Linked DNA regions of Homo sapiens: region 1 is linked to region 2. Evidence: fine-mapped expression QTL. A gene starts in region 2. The other region holds a variant in brackets. All regions are shown on one strand. Distances are from middle to middle.

Region 1 (8,334 bases), 130 kb before region 2:
TGAAGTAGATGGGTACTGTTATTGTCCCCATTTTCCAAATGAAAAATCTGAGACATAGAAGGACCTGCCCAGGGTCCAATAGTCATGACCTAACTGCTCTACTTTATTGCGTATTTGCGCTCCCATTCCATGCACTGGAGACAATACTATTATTCATGGTCTGAATTTGGTCTTCCAAATGTGTTGGATGGGCTTCCTTCTCCTAAGTTTATTAAATGACACTCTAATAATGTAGAATGAATGCAAATGTGGAATGAATGCATTTATTTATTTCTAGGTTTCCCTCTGTGTGAGTTGACTGTTGAGGTTTCAGTCCTAAAATGCAGTGAACTCCCTATCATCAGCTTTGTGGCCTCTGCTGTCACCCTGTCTCCCTAGCCCCAACTCCTGCACACTGTTTTAGTTTGTGACTTTAACATCAGATGTAATTTCTTTCAAGATCTTCTTTTTGTTATTTTATTTGTTTGCTTATACATATATAAACAATACATACATGTGTAAATAAAATAAATGAAGTCATAAACCAAAATATGAATGTATTAATGCATAATGTTTATTTGGGAATGTGCTTATTTCTTTCATTTGCTTAGTGCATTTTCTACATGTATTATTTTTTAAAAATCAAAATATTTTTTAAAGAGAGGGATGTTTAGTTTTTTGTTTGTTTGTTTTTGGAGACAGGGTCTCACTCTGTCACTCAGGCTGGAGTGCAGTGGCACAATCATGGCTCACTGTAGCCTCCACCTCTCCAGGCTCAGTTGATCCTCCCACCTCAGCTTCCTAAGTAGCTGGGACCACAGGCATGTACCACTACACCAGGGTAATTTTTGTATTTTTTGTAGAGATAGGGTTTCACCATGTTGCCCAGGCTGATCTTGAATTCCTGGGCTCAAGCAATCTGCCCAAGTCAGCCTCCCAAAATGCTGGGATTACAGGTGTGAGCCACCATGCCCAGCCTATATAGTTATTTTAAGAAACAGAATTATTGACTATGTGTCTGACATGTCATATTACCTATGGTAGGATGGGGTTCAAAAGAAAGAAAAGTTATAGTATCTTGAATGTTCAGAATTTAGCTTGAGGACATGAAGTGCAACAAATAAAAAATTAAAAGCATAATATTAAGTAAAATAATAAAAGTAGAATTTTAAGTATTGAAAAAAAGTAGAGAGGTGAGAGGTTGAGGTCAAGAATGATAACAAGGGAAAATATCTTTGAGTTGTTTAAGTTTGAATCTTCATACAGAAATATTCTCCCCAGGGCTTCATCCATTTCACAGATATTTATTGGACATCCTCTACTTTCTGTGCTGGATTTTGGAAATACAGTGGTGAATAAAGCATACTCTCTAGCATTTGAGTTTGAATAGTACCTTTATTTGTTTTCATCTTAAAAAGAAGCAGTTTAAATAAGATGTACCTGATCAGGAAGGTACAGCTAGTTTGGGAGCAAGCCTGTGAACTTAATATGCAGTATTCAAAACTTCTCCAAATTATGTTATTTCCTGGGTCCTTTAAAGGATGATGGTGATACTGAACTGTTGAACTATAGGGCAGTTGTGAAGATAAAGAAGGATGTCAACACATTATCTTTATTACTATTATTTCCAGTGATCACTCGGTATGTGTGAAGTTAAAACTATGGCCTTTTAATCATCTGTTTATGGCAAAGTCTAGTAGATAGTGGTCACTTTAAAAAAAAAATACCTTGCCTTGTTATATAAACTTCTCCATCATCCCTGGATTTAGGGATAGATTAGACAGGCCAGGATGTGGAATGACTGCTAAGAAATCAGTACTGGATCACCTCAGACAGCCAATGTCAGGTCTCCTGAGGCCTGTCCTTTTTCATGAGCACAATACACTTATTGATTTCAGCAACTGCCTTTTCTTTGAGTTGGGATTTGCTATCATGGAAATAACACTTAGTTGTAGCCATTAAAAGCAACTGTTCTCTTAATTAGAACAGTCACATGTAAGATTTAGGCCTTTAAATACAGCAGAAGCTCATAGGACTTCCGAAGCTTCAATTTATATGATTCTGTTCCTGTTCTTATTGCACTGTAGGAATTGCAAAGTTAATCTCTATAGCATCAAGTTATCTGTTGTAAAAATCTGAAACAGAGTACATTTTAGACATCCTATTGTTTGTTTAAAAGATAGTAAAGACAGCCAGGCATGGTGGCTCATGCCTATAATCCCAGCACTTTGGGAGGCAGAGGCGGGCAGATCACGAGGTCAGGAGATCGAGACCATCCTGGCTAACACGGTGAAACCCCATCTCTACTAAAAATACAAAAAATTAGCTGGACATGGTGGCGGGCGCCTGTAGCCCCAGCTACTCGGGAGGCAGGAGAATGGCGTGAACCCAGGAGGCGGAGCTTGCAGTGAGCTGAGATTCTGCCACTGCACTCTAGCTTGGATAGTGAAGAAAACTCTCTTATTTATTTATTTATTTATTTATTTATTTATTTATTTTGAGGCAGGGTCTCACTCTGTTGCCCAGGCTGGAGTGCAGTGGCATGATCATGGCTCACTGCAGCCTCAGCCTCCACCTTCCAGGCTCAAGCGATCCTCCCATCTCAGACTCCTGAGTAGCTGAGACTACAGGAATGCACCACCATGCCCAGCTAATTTTTTTATAGTTTTTGTAGAGATGGGGTTTCACAATGTTGCCCAGGCTGATCTTGAACTCCTGAGCTCAATCAATTCTCCTGCTTCTACGTCTCAAAGTGCTGGAATTACAGGCATGAGCCACTGTGCCTGGCCAAAATCGTGTATTTAGACAACTGTCTTCCTCTCAAGAACTTCTAACCAAACAGGAATCTAAGTTTACATTGTTTTCTAGGCTTTTGTTATCTAAATATTTCCTGCAGCAAAAAAAATGCCCTAAAACTCTTTGAAGTGTCAGCTACAAAAAATATTTGTTAATTGGATTATTTTGTGTGTTTTTTACTGCTTTATCTGGGAAATACATTAGCATCAATAGTTATCATGGCCCATAAGCAACTATTACCAACACCTTCAAATTGTTTGCATTGATAACTATATGAAGTACTTTTTTAGGGTTCTTTGGATTATAGTTTAAAAACTGGGGAATGGTATTTGTTGGCTGGTCAACAGTGAGTAATGGTTCAGCACCCATGCTGTTTTGTATAAGATCCATTAGGCTGCTAGATTGTGAGTCTTACCCATGGTTTCTGTGTGGACATACACAGTGGCTGACTGCATTCCTTTCTCTTGAGAATTCGGTTGTTTGCTGCAAATTGAGCTTTCAAATTTTGTAGGTTCTTTGTCCTCCTTTTTTGAAAAATATTTAAATGATGTTGCCCAAAGGGCTCACAGAGAAACAGCATGACCAACTTTCGGGAAATTAGTAAGCACTAGGGTTATTTTTAGCTTTTTCT[C/G]CTTACAAACATTTCCTTTTGTTCTTTAGAAGACATTGTTGATCTTTCATTCATTTGCTGTGCTGTCTCCCCAGCTACAAAATGGCTTTTGAATAGAATAAGCGCTCTCTTCTCTACTCTGCATGACATTAACTGTGTTCTTATTTTATTCAGTTTTTACTCTAGCTCATGAATTATCATTTGTGTATTTTTTTTCTGGATATTGAATCCTCCCCTACACACACAAACACACATACACACATTTTTGTTGTCATTTGGGGTTGACTTCCTCCCTCATATGCAACTAATGACTGAAAAATCTTCATACAAGCAGGATATACAAAGTCTGTATTTTTGTCAGTATATCATATGGTGGTGGCTGATGGTGTGATTTGGCCTTTATTTGCTGTTAGTACCTATTTAAAAACCATCACCTTGAGAAAATTGTGCAGTAGTGTCACGGGATCCTTGGGGTGTCGCATCACCAGCCAGAAACCTCTGTGACCAGTGGTACCTTTGCCCAGGTTTTGCTTGGGCCCACTGGGCCCACTCAGCCTGGCAGGCTGCACTCAGCTCGCACTACTGGCCTGGATCCCATGCCTGCCAAGGGCAAGTGGAGTGGCAAGGGGTGCATGAGTGAGCAAGCATGGGGTCCAGCCACTGCACACAGCCAGGCATGCTGGCTATGGCGGTGCAAGCAGCTCCAGGTGCCAGCACAGGCGCTGGAGGCAAGGCTGCCTGCAAGGCTGCAGCCGGACCAGGCGTACCACAAGCAGCTTTCACAGCTGGCACTGGGGAACACAGTGGCACCCAGAAGCTTAGAGACGCTGGGAACCACATAGCCCCAAAGAAGGTATCACAGCCCTAGCTCAGGGAGCTCCTAGGTCTGGGTTCCCTGAAGGGCCACAACTCTTCTCTCCTTGTTGCCCACAGCATGGCGAGCAAGGGGCATGTTTCAGCCCTGTTTGTGTTATAGCCCTTTAGGCCCCACCATTCGGCAGGTCCCGAGTTCCTGTCCCGTGCCCAGGAAGAAGGAGGTATACGAACAAGTGGAGGGTGAGCAAGGCAAAGAGGAGCTTTACTGAGCAATAGAACAGCTTAGAGGAGACGCACAATGGGTAGCTCCTCTCCACAACCAGGGTGTACCAATGTGAGTGTTCAGCTATCAGCAGAGAGTAGACCCTGGAGTGGATAGCTCCTCTCCACAGGTAGGTCATCCTGTAGAGGGTTCAGCTCTCAGCAGAGAAGAGACCCTGGGGTGGGTAGTTCCTCTCCGCAGCTGGTTTGTCCCACCATCTTTTCAACTTTCAGTATAGAGGAGACCCTGGGATATGTAGCTCCTCTTTACAGCTGATCGTCCCGATGTCTGCTCAGCTGTCAGCAGAGAGGAGACCCTGGAGTGGGTAGCTCCTCTCTGCAGCTGGTTGTCCTGACATCAGCTCAAGTCTGGCTGAGTCCAGTGTTTTTATGGGCTTCAGAGGGGAGAACGTGCAGGCTGATTGGCTTATGGGTGGGCCTGGCAAAAGCACCATAAGTTCCCACTCTGGTCTGCAGGACTGGCAGCCTGGCCCCCAGGCTTCAGGCCTTCCCTGGCTTGAAGGTGGGGCTTCACCAGGGACCCACCCCTTTCTGCCCAGGAACCTGTCTGCCTGCTACCACTGTTTATGGTGCCCAGGCTGTTCATGCAGAGGGGCACCTGCAGGCCAGTGCCAAGCCACGCTCAGTTCCCCCCTCAGCTTCCCTCCCATGCTCGTCAGTGCCCAAAGTTCAGTAGGGGCTGAGGCAGCAAGGGGCTGGCATGTCAGTGCTGTCCTGAGCATATGGACACCTGGCCAGGTTGTGACAGTGCCTGGGATTGACCTCAGCTTTGCTCCAAGATCAGAGCAGGTGCCGCTAATGGGTTGGGGGAGCTTCCGGGGCCCCTGAGAGTACAGAGATGCCTGGGTCCGCAGCCATGGCTGGGTAGCTGTAGCTACACCCAGGAGGGTGGGGCTCCTGCCTTCTTCCAGCCCCTAAGAGTACAGGGATGCCCAGGTCTGCATCTATGGCTTAGGAAACCGCAGCTGTGCCCAGGAGGGTAGGGCTCCTGCCTGCTCCTGGCCCCCAAGAGCACAGGCATACCTGGGTCAGCAGCCACAGCTTGGGCAGCTGCAGCTATGCCCAGGAGGGTGAGGCTCTTGCCCTGCCAACTTAGAAGGGGGAAGGACTTTTCTGCCTGTTCCTGGCTCCTGCCAGCTCCATGGAGCGCACAGCCCCAGCCACGCTTCCCCCACTGCAGCCGAGATGGGCCACCACTGCCATCAGTAGTATTGCAGAATCGCAAGTTCAGGATAGATGGTTACAAAGGCTGGTCTTTACACTTCAGCTTCATGTTTGATCTTTGAAAAATCTTCCAGTATAAAGAAGAAGTCAAATTTCTAAGGAAGCACACTGAAAACTCACTTTAACTCTTCACATAAAGGAGGGTTTGATATAAGACTTTTGTATTTTAGATCCCATCCAAGAGGATTTAGTCATTTTGTAATATCATTTAACCTTTTTTTTCCATTTTACTCTAAGATACGGAGACAGTTAGCATTTGTGGTTAAGATTGTGGGTTATGAAGTCAGACTGCCTGGTTTCAAATTGAAGTTACATCATTAATCTCTGTATGCTTTAGTTTCCTTATCTCAAAAAGGGAGATAATAGTTACTTCATACAATTATTTTGGGATTTAAATCAGATAATCCATGTAAAGAGCCCATGATATGAGCACACCTCATTTTATTGTCCTTCACTTATTGTACTTCACAGATATTTTGTTTTTTACAAATTGAAGGTTTATGTCAACCATGCTTTAAACAAGTGTGTTAGTGCTGTTTTTCCAACAGCATGTGCTTACTTCTTGTCTCTGTTCACGTTTTGGGATTCTCACAATATTTCACTTTTTTCTTTGTTTTTGATGGAGTCACACCCTGTTGCTCAGGTTGGAGTCCAGTGGTGCAGTCTCAGCTCACTGCAACCTCCACCTCCTGGGTTCAAGCAATCTCCTGTCTCAGCCTCCTAAGTAGCTGGGATTACAGGCACATACCACCACACCCAGCTAATTTTTTTTTGTATTTTTAGTAGACATGGGTTCACCGTGTGGGCCAAGCTGATCTTGATCTCCTGGCCTCAAATGATCTGCCTACCTCGGCCTTCTGAAGTTCTGGGATTACAGATGTGAGCTACCACACCCGGACAATTTTTTCATTGTTATTGTGTCTGTTATGGTGATCTGTGATCAGTGATTTCCTTTTTTATGAAATAGAGACAGGGTCTTGCCATGTTGCCCAGGCAAGTCTGTCAGTGCAATTTTTCCAACAGAATGTGCTCCCTTCATGTCTCTATGTCACATTTTTGTAATTCTCACAGTATTTCAGACTTTTCCATTATTTTTATATCTGTTATTGTGACCAGCAATCTTTGATATTACTATTGCAATTGTTTTGAGGCAACACAAATCATGCTCTTTATAAGAGAGTGAACTTAATTGATGAATGTTATATGTATACTGACTGCTCCACCGGCCATTTCCCATTTCTCACCCCCTCTTTTGGCCTCCTATCTGAGACTCAACAATGTTGAAATTAGATTAGTCAATAACCCTACAATGATCTGTAAGTGTTCAAGTGAAAGGAAGAGTCATAAGTCTTTTGCTTTAAATCAAAAGCTAGAAATGATCAAACTTCACGAGGGAGGCATGTCAAAAGATGAGATAGGCCTCTTGTGCCAGTCAGTCAAGTTATGAAACAAAGGAAAAAGTTCCTGAAAGTTATTACAAGTGCTACTCCAATGAACACACAAATAATAAGAAAGCAAAATAGACTTGTTGCTGAGTGGAGAAAGTTTTAGTGGTCTGGGTAGAAGATGAAACCAGCTACAACATTCCCTTAAGACAAAGTCTAATCCAGAGCAAGACCCTAACTCCCATTCTATGAAGCTGAGAGAAGTGAGGAAGCTGCAGAAGAAAAGTTGGAAGGTAGCAGAGGTTGGTTCATGAGTTTTAAAGAAAGAAGCTGTTTCCATAACATAAAAGTGCAAGGTGAAGCAGCAATTGCTGATTTAGAAGCTGTGGCAAGTTATCCAGAAGATCTAGTTAAGATCATTGATGAATGTGGCTACACTAAATGACAGATCTTCCATGTAGATGAAATAGCCTTCTATTGGTAGAAGATGCCGTCTAGGACTTTCAGGAATGCTAGAGAGATGTCAATGCCTGGCTTGAAAGCTTCAAGGGACAGGCTGACTCTCCTCTTAGGAGTTAATGCAGCTGGTGACTTGAAGTTGAAGCCAATGCTTATTTACCATTCTGAAAATTCTAGAGCCCTTAAGAATTATGCTGAATCCACTCTGCCTGTGCCCTATAAATGAAACAACAAAGCCTGGATGACAACACATCTGTTTACAGCATGGTTTACTGACTATTTTAAGCCACTGTTGAGATCTACTACTCAAAAAAAAAAGATTCCTTTCAAAATATTACCACTCCTTGACAAAGCACCTGGTCAGACAAGAGCTTGGATGGAGATGTTCCAGAAGATTATGTTGTTTTCATGCCTGCTAACACAACAGCCATTCTGCTGTCCATGGATCGAGGAGTAATTTCAACTTTCAAGTCTTATTATTATGAGAAATACATTTCATAAGACTACAGCTGCCATATATAGTAATTTCTCTGAGGGATCTTGGCAAAGTACATTGACAACCTTCTGGAAAGGATTCACCATTCCAAATGCCATTAAGAACATGCATGATTCATGGGAAGAGATCAAAATATCAACATTAACAGAAATTTGTAAGAAATTGATTTCAACCCTCATAGATGACTTTGAGGAAGGGGTTCAAGACCTCAGTGGAGGAAGGAGCTGCAGATATGGTAGAAACAGCAGGACAACTAAAATTAGAAGTGGAGCCTGAAGATGTGACTG
Region 2 (8,334 bases):
ATGTTGTCCAGGCTGATCTTGAACCCCTAGGCTCAAGCAATCCTCCCGCCTCAGCCTCCAAAGTGCTGGGATTACAGGTGCGAGCCACTGCAACCGGCCAGATTCCATCCTCTTAAGGCCAGTGTATTAGGTGGCTCATTCTTACAGTATGAGTAAGCAGGACTTATTTAGCCATCAAAAGGGTCCTTTTATTGCCTGTAATCCTCTACTCTCTATATAACGCTCCAAGGAATGAGACTATATTTCCGTCTCCTATCAACTCAGCCTCAGCATATGTTATCTCTAGTTATCTCTATTTTTCCCTTCCAACAAAAGCTGCTTTGGGGAAACAATCTGATGAATTAGGTATAAATGACTAATAAGGATTAAAATATTACTTTTCCCAGGATTATGGTTTTGTGCTAGAGAAAAAAACTACTTAAAGGGATAAAACTCTAATGGCAGAATTTCAGGTGAGTTGGAGGGTTTTTGATTATAGGTACTTTTCTAGCCTAGATGGTAGTCTGTCAGATTGGTCCTGAGTGTGAGTATAAATTTTAAAAAGGCTAGGACCAGGGCAAGTCTTAGCCTAAAGCAGTGGCTTGATCAGTTAAGTTTAGAGAGGAGGGTTAGGTTTACTCGAATCTATGGCATCACATTTAAAGGGGTCTCGAATCAACCTGAGATTAGAAGCAACACTGGAATCCCAGAATCTAGCTGGTTTTCCACTAGTATGGGAGATATTCCATCCTGGGATGCTTTAGGAGAGTGACCCTTTCAGTTCAGAGCTATGCCACTGAGTTCTGATCAGGCGCAAAACGGTTTTTGAAAACGGAGCAAGAAATCTTCCCAGCGATGATTACAAATAGCTTGTACAATATGCTAACTTTAGCTTTTTATGCAATGGTTAAGATTCATTTTCACATAGATATCCAGCTTGGTAACACTGGCATAGCTGCTGCCATTTCCTAGCTTCCAGCGAATACTCTTACCTCTAATTCAGCACTGAATATATCTGAACACTTCAGTACTACCTGTAAATCTTCAACTTCTGCTGTATGCTAAATAACCTAACATCTGTATTAATTCCAGCAGTTCTTCAAGTAGTTAAAAATGCTCCCAACCTGAATAAAATGACTTGAATATCTTCGGCGTTATTTCAAGTGTTTGCAACTAATGTACAACTCATTTTGGTAAATGATTACTTGGTGGAATTTATGAACTCTTTCCATTGGCAAGCCAAAAAAAAAAAAAAAAAAAAGGTCTGTAGGGGATATAGCTCTTTATTCAAACTTGGTAATAAATAATTATCTCTAGAATACAGACGGAAGAACTGAACCAGGGACTTCAGGGACCCAGAGGCTAATTATCATCACTGTACACAGTTAAGTGCAGCAGAGAATGGGGGTGACGAATGGTTCGCTCCGCATTACGCTCCTTCTCTGGGTAAAACAAGGCCGTCTTTTCTGTGAACATATTTAAAGCAAGAACTGCAAAAACTGTGCAATGTTATGGTTGAGGCTTTCTATTTGCCATATGTGTTGACAGAATGCTTAAGAGTCTCTCTCCGCAATAAACGCGAACCCTGCCAGGCTGAATTATTAGGGCCAGCGCAATTCAACGACTGCACCACCACCGAACCGCTGGGGTTGGAAGCCTGCGTCGCATCGGAGCGTACCCATGTTTCTTCTAACAAAGGCACGATCTTGAGGCCATTTCGCGGGCCCTTTTCCCACTCCCAGCGCCAGCTTTGTCTCCCCGCCGGTATGAGGCTGAGACTTGGAGGAGGCTGAGCTGCGCCGCTGGGGAACAAGCTCGAAGGGCGGGCGTGGGAAGCTGCACCGCGCTGCCGCTGTGGTTTCCTGCGACCTGACCGTGCCATTAGAGGAAGTTGGAGTGCTGCAGCTGCAAGAGATACCTGCTGCCTTCAAATCAGGGCTGGACTCCAACAACCCCTGTGCACCGATTACTGTCGTACAAAGAAACTCCATCGGCCGGCGCGGCGGAGGCCTGTGGGCTCTCTATCTCTCTGGCTGGGCGCTGGGCCGCGAGCAGACAGCAGGGTCGGCGTTGCCAGCGTTCCCCACCCTGGGGGGCTCGGGAGTCCGGGAGTGCGGGGTCGGGGAGCGGGCAGGGAGCAGCGGGCAGGCCTCGAGGGGCCTGGGCCAGAGTGGGCCTCACGGCGCGCCTTGCACGCGAACCCACGGCCGCCGGCTGCCCCTCCCCCGGCCCCCGGCCCGCTGCCCCCAGCCGCCGACGTCGGCCCGCACCGCCCCCGCGCGCTGACTGGCCCGCGCAGGCCTCCTGCCCGGCTGTTGGCGGTTGGGGCGAAGCCGGCGGGAGGCCGCCCCGCCCCCGCCCCCGCCGCAGAGTCGCGGCGCGCAGCCTCTTCACCCGTCGCGGCCGGGGCGGTGGCGCTGTTGCCGCCGCGGCCTGTGAGGCAGTAACTCCCCTCCGCCCCTGCCCCATTCCTCCTCCTTTCTCTCCGCTCCCTCCGTCCTCCCTCCCCTCGCCGTCTCTCGCTCGAGTGAATGTGGCGCGGCGGCGCGGGACGCAGTCTCGGCCCCTGCCGCGGCCCCGCAAGCTCGTGAGGAGACGGAGCTGCCTCCTGCTCCCGCCCCCTGCGCGTCTCGGGGAGCCACCGCCGCTGGCGAAGGAGAACAAGCAGGGCAGCGGAGGGACGGTGGCGGGAAAACGGGAGAGGGAGGAGAAGAGGGTTCGAGGGCGAGTAGGGAAAGCGGGGAGGGACGGACGGAAGGACGGACGGCCCGACGGACGGCCCGGGGAGGGGGCCGCTATTGAGCCTGCCCGACTCCTCGGCTCCGGCTCCGGGTGGCGGCGGCAGCGGCGTCGCGGACGAAGGGCGCGGCAAGCGCTATCGAGACAATAACCCTGCCGCCCGGCTCTGGGGGCAACGGAGAGGAAGCGGTGGCGGCCTAGCGCGGCCGAGGCTCGCCGAGCGCCCGGGCAGCGTCCTCGCCCCCGCCGGCCGGGTGCTGCTGCCGTCCGGTGTGCCGGGCGCGCCGGTTGCCCGGAACCCGAGGCTCCCGGCGGCCGTCCCCTCCCCTCCCCCTCTCCGGTGCGCGCGGAGCTGGTTTTCCGGGTTCCCCTGGACGGAGCTGGATCCTGCTTCTCGCCAAGGCAGGAAGTGAGTTTCGCACTGCAATTCCGGGCGGTGTCACGAGTGAAAAGTTTTGTTTTTTTTTTTTTCGGCGGAGATCCTCGTTGGGGCTGGGAAACTCCTGCAAAACTCGAGACCAGGAAGCCAGCCCGCACCCCAACCCCCACCAAAGCCACCTACTCTTCTTCTGTGGGAGGCCAGTCCACATCCGCTCTCACCCGAGAGAGATATTCAGCTGGATCCAAAGTGACTGATGAAGGGAAGGAAATCATGTCAAGCGAAGCCTTGAAAAAGCTGCCCTGAGACGGTGTCCCGCCGAAAGGTAATTTTCACGAAAAGTGTCTCTGAGTCACAAAGTTCATGGGACTTTGTGACTCGGAAAAGAGATGATTCTTTAGTGTTTTTCACTCTTCTCCAAGTTGCCCTAAACCCTCCTTTTCTCATATCGAAGCGGTTAATAATTGAGGGGCTAAATAATCGAACTGCACCCCACCGCGTCCCTTCTCCCCCCTGCCCCCCCCACCATCTGGACTTTGAATTTTTTGGAAGAGGTTGTAAGAATGCGGTGGGACGAAAAGTTTTTAGTAATCCGAAGAACGATTGCCTTTGTTCAGCACAGGGGCCAGAAGTTTTGGCTTTCTGGAACGTATAGAGTGTATATTAAGTTGCTCAGCCAGGCACCTTCTGTTTGGGAAGAAAGTTTGGTCGCTGCAGTGAGTGATTTGCTGTTATTGAGATGGCTGCCGCGTTTGTTTATACTCATACCGATTATATTGGCGCTTGCGTTAATTGTATATAGAGGTATTTATTTTTATTTTTTTATTTCCAACCCTGATCAGTATATTTAGTTAGATTTTAGAAACCAAAAAATCTTGCCATTCTTAGTTGTTTTTCAGGGTGAGTAATATATTTCTTTAGTTGTGTGTAGTGTGTGTTTTTCAGACGTTTAGCGCCGTATAACTTGTTTAATTAATTGAAAGCAAGGATCGACTAGGCTTTTCTTGTAACTGATCCATTACGAAGAAAAAAGGAGTAAGGACTAAGAATAGGGAGAGATAATTAAACAACATTAACAACCTGTAAGACGTTTAATAGGACTTCTGTACAGTTCAGAACAGACGATGGGAGGGGAAGTAAAACGCTTAAAACGATTTTCAAGGGAATCACAGTGATTGTGATAAAAAGCTGTGCTTTTCGAGTAGTATGGTCTTTACATTTTTGTGTTGTCCCAAATGTTTTTGGTCGGTTCTGCATAAATAGTGATAGGTTCTGCCTACATCTGTGGGGGCAGGATTCATGAAGCATGGCAGACATTCCACCAGTCAGAGCTATGAACACTTCTGAACCAATGGGGACTAGTTTTGATAGCAGTAAACCCAAAGTTTTTTTCAGTGGTGTTTTAGTCTTTTTCTGTTTACTTTTTTTCCCGGTATTTTTGCGGTACAGGGAGGTGAAATACAATACTGTACTTTTGAATATATATTGAATAAATTTGGTAATCCTGTTGGTAGGTATATCCTAAATATATATTGATGTTTAGATTGCCTATGCTGTCTCACGTAATGACCGGAAACCCGAGGAGAGAGTTGATTTTCTTTAGTTCAAAGAGAAAAAATAAGTTTTAAAGATCAGGATCAAATTATTTCACAATTTGTTCTTTGCTACTTCAGCTTCATTAAGTACATCTCCAAAGGCAGTCCTTTATTTATTACTGTAGTTTTGATTTTTTTTTTCCTCCCCGGGGCATGGTCTCAGGAGATTCTTTTTTTTTTTCATTGTTGGTAAGATTTGTGAACCATGGAATAATTCTTGTTAAGTCAAACTAGCTTTATCAAAGAATTTAAAGTGCATAACTCATCTACTTTATGATTTTGGAACGTATCATTAGGCTGCAAAAGAGGTTATTCTTGGGCATCTGAAAGAGGTGAACAAAATAAATGGCATTGAACTTCAGTTTCCTTATATGGCTTATACTTGGCTTCAAAAGCAACAAAACCTTAATAGAGCAAGTCCCTTACAGAGAATTATCGCTTTATGAAGATGGTTATTTATTAGTAAATTTTGTATAAAAAAAGTATTGTAGCACTTGAAAATGACTATTTAAGCCTCTATTTTTAGATTTAGTTCTTGATTTTTTTTCTCAGGAGAAGAGTAGTATGTTTCGATGCAGACAACACGTTTTATGAAGTGAGGTGTTCACCTTTGTGTTTCTTTTTTTTCTCCTCAACAAGGCATAATTTACTTCGTAGTTTTCTTGGAATTCTGTTAGTTTATCACCGAATTAACTTAAATTTTAGGTTTTATACTATTGTGAAACTATAAGTATTTTCGAAGCTTTGTTTAAACTGTGACAAAGGTTTGAAAAGAGGTTAATAGAGGAGTCATCCGTTAAAATATTTTTAAATGGCTTCAAAATTTGGATATTCTTCTAGTATGGTGTGGATTTTCAAAGATTAAATTGGCAAATAGAGAGTACTTCCAAAGTCTATATTGCACAAAATACACACTTAAAGGCTCTGTTTATTGAAGGTAATCATGAATTTTCAGGACTTCAACTGATTCAAGTAGTACTGTTACGAGGTCTCCTTGCCATTTGAGATCAAACTATTGTAAACTTTATGTATAAAAAGCTTACAGAGGTACAAACATGGAAACCAAATTTTTATTGTATGCTGTTTCTTAATGAAGTGATAACTATAGATACATTAACATATATCATTGGCAAATCTCAAAAATCGATTATTTTACACATTGTTGGTATTGCACTATTAGTAGTAAATAATACCCTTTAAGAAATAGTTAAAAGTTTCAGAAAATAGGTGTATATTTCAAAATTACTTATTTGAAATAATTGCTTACGGATAATACGATTTAGACTTTAAGCTGCTTTTGTTTTGGAAATAGATTATGGCAGTACTTACAGAGTATTTGGGATTATGCAGAATTTTAGTGATGCTGGGTAGCAGTTTCTTTTTTATTTTTCGTAATTGCTGCTTATCCAGATTCTCCTTACATACCCTACTTGGCTGCTTGCATTTTGACTCTTTGCCTTGCTCATTCATTTCTTGAATTTGTTACATGCTTGCTTCCGTTTTCTTTTTCTGGGAATACATCTCTATTATAAACCTCTAAAGATGTCTTTGTCTTTTCCTCTTTTTTTTTTTTTTTTTTTTCGAGATGGAGTCTTGCTCTGTTGCCTAGGCTGGAGTGCAGTGGCACAATCTCGACTCACCACAACCTCCACCTCCCGGGTTCCAGCGATTCTCCTGCTTCAGCCTCCCAAGTAGCTGGGATTACAAGCGCACATCATCATGCCTAGCTAATTTTTGTATTTTTAGTAGAGACAGGTTTTGCCATGTTGGCCAGGCTGGTCTCGAACTCCCGACCTCAGGTGATCTGCCCACCTTGGCCTACCGAAGTGCTGGGATTACAGGTGTGAGCCACTGAGCCCGGCCTACTGCTAACTCCCATTTTTCAGATTCACTTTTTAGCTGTCTCTTCTTAGGTTTCCTAATTGTAAAAAAGAAACTTAGCTGCTATTCAGCTTTCTCTTCTGATTCCCTTAGCTTCCTATATTTATAGTTAGCTTCATTTACCTAGCCTTATTTTCTCTGTGTTCAGTTGGTCGTTCTTAATTATATTTTGCCATTTCCCTCTTTTCCAAACTGTTAGTCTATGTTTATCACCTCAAAAAACTGTTCAAAACATGCAGTGGAAAAAGTTTATCTGATCTTATTTTATTAGCCCATTTAATTCTGAATATCCCCTTTGCATTTCAACTAAGTGTACATGCTGGTATTTTAACTTTATATTCATCAGTATATTGCTTTGTTTATTTTGAGATGGAGTCTTGCTCTGTCGCCCAGGCTGGAGTGCAGTGGCAAGATTTTGGCCCACTGCAAGCTGCGCCTCCCCCAGGTTCACGCCATTCTCCTGCCTCAGCCTCCCGAGTAGCTGGGACTAGAGGCGCCCGCCACTGTGCCCGGCTAATTTTTTTGTATTTTTAGTAGAGACGCGGTTTCACCGTGTTAGCCAGGATGGTCTTTATCTCCTGACCTCGTGATCTGCCCACCTCGGCCTCTCAAAGTGCTGGGATTACAGGCATGAGCCACCGCTCCCGGCCATTGTTTGTTTTATACTTTGTTTTCTCAGTTTTCCTTTTTCTCTTTAGTGTTCTTAAAATTGACTGTTAAGATAATACCAGGTTGTTATTTATTCTTATGTATTAAGACTTTGTAACCCTCTCTACCTTCTTGTTTTATTATACTTTTGGCCTCTTAAAACATACAGATATATTTCTCTGTTCCTTCTTCTCTGTACCTTCCTCTTCTGTCCTACCTTTCAAGTTAGATGTCTTCTCTGACACAGAATCCCTAAAATTTTGAAATTATCTTTCTTTGATTTCATGAAATAAGCACAATAGTACTCTATCACTCTATTTTTGTCACTTCAAATTTTGTTCCAGACACCATTGAATGAAGGTCTTGCCAGGCTTTAAGTGATAGTGTGGAAGACGATAGAAAAGGAGAATATCTAAAAATTCACTTTGTGGAAGACGATAGAAAAGGAGAATATCTAAAAATTCACTTAATAAGACTCTACTTATCTGGAGGTTATTTATTATAGCTTTAAAAGCATATTGAATGTAGTAGAAAAACTAGAAAATAAAAAATGACATCTCCTTAATCACAACAGGTATGACAGAGTCTGGGGACTTCACTTTTAGGGCCATTATTATTCAGAGCCCATTTACTTATGTACATAATGAGCTGTTTTTGGTTCTTTGGTATCCCAGAAGGCGTGAGAAAGGTACGTTTACAGCATTGTGAAGTTATGACCTGTGGTGTTACAGTGAAGCAATAGAAAAATGGAAAGATGACTGAATAACTTAGAAAATAATCTGGGACAACTTACTTTGAGGCTAAGTGCCTTGTACATTTCATTTCCCTGTAGGAGGATTCACTCTGTTATAATATGGTATAATTACAAGAAATAGTAATAGTCCTAAGGCAGCTGTTCTCAGACTTTTTGGTTTGACTCAAAACAGAAATTAAAAAAAATTAATTTATTTGAAAATAAGCTATTGCATGTTAGTGTAACATTGTTTTAATAAAAATATAATTGTTTTCTAAAATAAATAGCAAAAATAGTGGCAATGTTTTATATTTTTGCAAGTCTCTTATGTTTGGCTTAATAGAAAACAGCTCGATTCTCATATCTGCTTCTTCACTCCA

The links.
Region 1: its variant is fine-mapped to the expression of ERBIN in tibial nerve (GTEx, PIP 0.98).

What each region holds. Positions count from the first base shown.
Region 1 is chr5:65,798,225-65,806,558 of GRCh38, forward strand. The region is part of intron 9 of NLN (neurolysin); the gene reads left to right. Among named protein-coding and RNA genes, the nearest start is that of NLN, 80 kb to the left of the region's middle. The variant C/G (reference allele first, on the strand shown) is at 3,407.
Region 2 is chr5:65,923,385-65,931,718 of GRCh38, forward strand. ERBIN (erbb2 interacting protein) reads left to right here and starts at 3,191. Exons shown (of 26, transcript NM_001253697.2): 1 at 3,191-3,422. RefSeq lists enhancers at 1,291-1,915, 1,415-1,634, 2,540-3,164, 3,125-3,344 and a silencer at 1,955-3,044.